Regions from separate parts of the Homo sapiens genome. Here region 1 is linked to region 2. The links come from fine-mapping of genetic effects on gene expression. Tissue or cell type: blood mononuclear cells. Region 2 holds a variant in brackets; the other region holds the start of a gene. All regions are shown on one strand. Distances are between the middles of the regions.

Region 1 (2,798 bases), 30 kb after region 2:
ACCTACTTGGAAGAGGCAAACGAATCAAGCGAAAAACTATTAAAACTGAGACAGGCTTTAGTATGGAGGCTCAGCTTCAGCTGTAGTTTGGGCTACCAAATTCAACTCGCTTGCTTGGAGAGTTAATCCTGCAAAGCTAATTTCTGTTGAGGTATTAGGATTGACAAGCCTGTGCTCCTCCCTCCTCCCCCATCTTCAACACTGAAATAACACGGTGTTTGGAACTGGATAACAGAATCTTCCAAAAACAAAAATTGTCCTGAAGGGCTGACTTGTGCCCTTACTCAAAAAACACTTTATCTGCTGCCTGCAGCTCCTACAGTTGCTGGTGGATAAGCCTGCCAACCAGCTCGGCGTAATTCTTCCTGCAGAGGGCAAGGAAGAGCACTTTCACAGGAAAATTTTTTTCCGAACTGTATGCCGCTTATTACATAAACTTACGTGCTGGCAAATGGAGCTCCAGCAAAATAAGATATTCAGAGTCAAACTTCCTTAGGAAAAAAAAAAAAAAAAAGCAAGCACATAACACTAATTTCCTTGCATGGGCACTGGGGAAGGAGGTCGTTACTTCCGCACGCCCGCAGGTCCGCACCACCGGGAAACCCACGGGCACCGCGCGCTGCCCCCGGGCCTTCCAGGTGCACTGCGCCGCGGCGCCCCAGCTGACCCGGGATGCGCAGCCCTAGCCCTTCCCCTGTCACCCCGGCCAGGAAGGGGCGGGAGCGCGGCGGACGCCGAGGGCGAAGGGCTTCTCGGTCCTCTGCACCACGCAGCACCCCCAAGGCACAACAGGGAGGGTGCGGGAGGCTCCCGAGACCCAGGAGCCGGGGCCGGGCGTGCCCGCGCACCTGTCCCACTGCGGCGAGGGCTGGGGTCGCCTCCAGGGCCGCAGCTGTCGGGAGCCACCTGGCTCTCAGTCCCGGGTCCCTGCGACAACCCTCGGGCCCGGAGGGGAGGAGGCGGCCACCTGCCGCTGCCACCTGCGGCACCGGTCCCACCGCTCCGGGCCGGGCAGGACAGGCCAGGACGTCCCTCCTGGGCTGGGGACAGGACACGCGACGAGGGGACCGGGGCCCCCGCGGCGAAGACGCAGCACGCCTTCCCAGAAAGGCAGTCCCGTGCCCCCACGACGGACTGCCGGACCCCCGCGCTCGCCCGCCCATCCCTTCAGACCACGCGGCTGAGGCGCAAAGAGCCGGCCGGCGGGCGGGCTGGCGGCGCGGCTAGTACTCACCGGCCCCGCTGGCTCAGCGCCGCCGCAACCCCCAGCGGCCACGGCTCCGGGCGCTCACTGATGCTCAGGAGAGGGACCCGCGCTCCGCCGGCGCCTCCAGCCATCGCCGCCAGGGGGCGAGCGCGAGCCGCGCGGGGCTCGCTGGGAGATGTAGTACCCGGACCGCCGCCTGCGCCGTCCTCCTTCAGCCGGCGGCCGGGGGCCCCCTCTCTCCCAGCTCTCAGTGTCTCATCTCCCTATCTGCTCATCCTCTGGTCGCACATAATCGATGTTTGGGCGTCCCAAGCCAGATGTGGACCCCATTTCCGCACTCTACACTGGAGGTTTTCTAAGGGTGGTGCCCGGACCAGCAGCTTCAGCCTCATCTGGGAACTTGAGAAAATGCAGATTCTCCGTCCCACCCAGCCTATTCGGTTTTTCCTGCACTAAAACCATGAAGGTGGGGCCCAGCAGTCCACATTCTCGCAAGCCCGTCAAGTGATTCTGAGGCGCCCTCCAGTTTGAGAGCTATGCTCACGGCCTCACCTCCGCCCCGCAAGGAGCCCGGTCTTGCCTGTGGCGCTAGCCGCACACGGACACCTCATCCTGCGGGGCCCGCCCCCCCGCTGCACCCTCACCGCCCAACGCCTCCTCCGGGATGCAGCGGAGGCGCCTGGAAGTCGGCAAGGTCAACATCCCCCTCAGCATCTTCCCTACCCTCACGGCTCCTCCTCCAGGGGTGCCTCATGGCCAGGGGTTAGAAAGAGCCACTGTGTTTCTTGACATGGAAGTGGCCTAAGACCTTAATGAAAACTGCAGGAGTGGAATGACAGAACCTTTGGTCATACTTGAGGGCGTGAAGCTCAAATGAGGAGGAAGGAAAGGATCCAGGGAGAATAACCAACCCTGGCAAGTTGTGGCGCCCAGGTAGAGGGGCGAGCCTAGGCTAGCGGTTCTCGACCAGGGCCGGTGTTGCCCCTCCTCGCCGCCCCGCGTACATTTGGGGAGGTCTGGAGACATTTTTGGTTGTCATGATGCGGGAGTTGCTACTGTTGCCTAAGTGGGTAGACACGAGGGTGCTCCTCAACATCCTACCTGAAGGACAGGACTGCCCCACAAGGAAGAATGATCCGGCCCCAAATAAGAAACCCTGGGCTGGTCAGCAACAACCCCTTTGTTCTGAGAAGAGAGGAGGAAAGAATAAAAGAAGTGGGGTGAAGTTTTGGTTTGGTAGAGGAAACTTGAAGACATTTTCACTGGAAAGGAAGAGAGGAAGAGGAGGGAGATGTCTGTAAGGACGAGCAAACCGGGTGACAGCTGATTTCCTCATATTGAAGTAATGAGTCCTAGTTATAATAAATTCCTAATAAAAACCCAGTTTATCCCTGCAATAAACTTGTCTTTTTTTTTTAAATATACTGCTTGATTCTGTTTGCTAATATTTTATTTACAGGCTTTGCATTGATATGCAAAAATGAGATGGGCAATAATTTTCTTTTTGAATGTCTAATGTTGTTTGGTTTCAGAATCAATGTTATGCTCACATCATAAAAAATTTGGAACCGAGGCAGGAGGAGTGCTTGAG
Region 2 (2,798 bases):
AACAGACCAAAAAATGATGAAAGAAGGAATCCAGAAACATCAAGAAGAAAGAAATAACATAGTAAGCAAAAATACATGTAATTACAATAAAATTTCTATCTCCTCTTAAGACTTCTAAATTATATTGATGGTTGAAGCAAAAATTATAACCCTGTCTGAAGTGCTTCTACTAAATGTATGCAGAGAATTATAAATGGGGAAAGTATAGGTTTCTATACCTCATTGAAGTGGTAAAATGACAACACTGTGAAAAGTTACATACACACACACACGTAAGTATATATAAATATATGTGTGTATATGTGTGTGTATATATATATATACATATAATGTAATACAGCAACCACTAACAACACTATACAAAGAGATAATAACCAAAAACAATTTAGATAAATTGAAATGGAATTCTAAAAAATATTCAAATACTCTACAGGAAGACAAGACAAAAAGAGAAAAAAAGAGGAGGACAAACTAAATTTTTTAAAAACATAAATAAAATGGTAGACTTAAGCCCTAACTTATCAATAATTACATAAATGTAAATGATCTAATTATATCAATTAAAAGACAGAGATAGCAGAGTTAATTTAAAAACATAGCTATAAGAAACCTGCTTTGGGCTGAGTGCAGTGACTCACACTTGTAATCCCAGCACTTCGGGAGGCCAAGGCGGGTGGATCACCTGAGGTCAGGAGTTCCAGACCAGCCTGGACAACATGGTAATACCCCATCTCTACTAAAAATACAAAAAAATTAGCCAGGCATGGTGGCACACGCCTGTAGTCCCAACTACTCAGGAGGCTGCGACACAAGAACTGCTTGAACCCGGGCAGCAGAGGTAGCAGTGGGCCAAGATTGCGCCACTCCAGCCTGAACGACAGAGTGAGACTCCACCTCAGTTGAAAAACAAAAAAGAAACCTGCTTTAAATATACCAACATATGTTGGTTGAAATTAAAAGAATAAAATATATCATGAAAACATTAATCAAAAGAAAGGAGTGGCTATATTAATAACATAAAATAGACTTCAGAGAAAAGAAAATTTCAAGAGACAGGAATAAAAGGATCAAGAAAAGATCCTGAAAGAAAAGCAGGCAAATCAATCATTCTGCTTGGAGATTCAACACCCTCTCTTAACAACTGATAGAACAACTAGACAAAAAAATCAGCATGGAGTTGAGAAGAACTTAACACCACTGAACAACAGGATCTAATAGACATTTACGGAACACTCTACCCAACAATAGCAAAATAAACATTCTTTTCAAGTATTCACTGAACATATCCTTAGACCCTACCCTGGGCCATAAAACAAAGCTCACTAGTGATTGCCGAAGGCTTGGATGGACAGTGGAAGAGCTGCATGGGGAGGGAGAAGGTGACAGTTAAAGAGTGTAGGATTTCTTTTTGGGATAATGAAAATGTTCCAAAATTGATTGTGGTGATGTTGG[C/T]GCAACTCTACAAATATAAAAAAGGCCATTGAATTGTACGTTTTAAGTGGGTGAAACATATGGTATGTGGATTATATCTAACGCTTTTTAAAAACTTAACACATTTCAAAGAATAGAAGTCATACAGAGTGTGCTCTACTGGAATCAAACTAGAAAGAGGTAACTGGAGGATAACGAGAAAAGCCTCCAAATACTTGAAAACTGGACAGCACATTTCTAAAATCATCCGTGGGTCAAAGATATTCATTTCTGATATTCATTTTTATTGTTTAATGTATTTTTAAAAATTTCTTAAGGGAAATAAACTGACTAAAAATGAATATGGCTGGGTGCGGTGGCTCACGCCTGTGATCCCAGCACTTTGGGAGGCCGAGGCTGGTGGATCACAAGATCAGGAGTTCGAGACCAGCCTGGCCAAGATGGTGAAACCCCGTCTCAACTAAAAAACTACAAAAAGTAGCCAAGCGCAGTGGCGGGAGCCTGTGGTCCCAGCTACTTGGGAGGCTGAGGTAGGAGAATCGCTTGAACACAGGCAGCAGAGGTTGCAGTGAGCCAAGATTGTGCCACTGCACGCCAGCCTGGGCGACAGAGACTGCCTCAAAAAAAAAAAAAAAAAAAAGAATATCAAAATTTGTGGGACATAGTTAAAGCAATGCTGAGAGGGAAATTTATAACACTAAATGTTTACATTAGAAAAGAGAAAAAGTTTCAAATCAATAGTCTCCACTCCCATCTCAAGAACACAGAAGATGAAGAGCAAAATAAACCCAAAGCAAGCAAAAGAAAGAAAATATAAAAATAAATCAGTAAAATTGAAAACAGAAACACAATAAAGAAAATCAGTGAAACAAAGTACTGATTCTTCGAAAGATTAATAAAATTGACAAACCTCTAGCAAGGCTAACAAACAAAAAAGAAAGAAGACACGGATTACCAGTTATTAGAATGAAAGCATAATTAGAAACAACTCTACACATTATAAATTTGACAATGTAGATGAAATGGACTAATTACTGAAAAAACACAAATTACCACAACTCACCCAATATGAAATAGATAATTGGGATAGCCTGATAACTACTGAGAAAATTGAATTTGTAATTTTAACACTCTTAAAACAGAAACATTAAACTTAATATTTTATAAATATTAGATAAGGTAATTATACCCTTCCTTAACAAATAAAAACGACAAATTATTTTGCAGCTAAAGAGATGTATGTACTGTGAAAAATATCTTCAGAAAAATAGAACTTTGTTTGAAGAATAAGGATTTAAAAAATGTTTTTAACTCTCAAGAAGCAAATATCTGGGCCCAGATGGTTTCACTGAAGAATTCTACCAAAT

Evidence for each region.
Region 1: SPECC1 starts here. The variant in region 2 is fine-mapped to the expression of SPECC1 in blood mononuclear cells (TOPMed, PIP above 0.99).

What each region holds. Positions count from the first base shown.
Region 1 is chr17:20,007,861-20,010,658 of GRCh38, reverse strand. It overlaps SPECC1 (sperm antigen with calponin homology and coiled-coil domains 1), which reads right to left and starts at 1,300. Exons shown (of 15, transcript NM_001243439.2): 1 at 1,235-1,300. It overlaps SPECC1-DT (SPECC1 divergent transcript), which reads left to right and starts at 1,399. Exons shown (of 1, transcript NR_186461.1): 1 at 1,399-2,604. RefSeq lists silencers at 629-808, 829-1,498 and an enhancer at 1,931-2,498.
Region 2 is chr17:20,037,677-20,040,474 of GRCh38, reverse strand. The region is part of intron 1 of SPECC1 (sperm antigen with calponin homology and coiled-coil domains 1); the gene reads right to left. Among named protein-coding and RNA genes, the nearest start is that of SPECC1, 30 kb to the right of the region's middle. The variant C/T (reference allele first, on the strand shown) is at 1,453.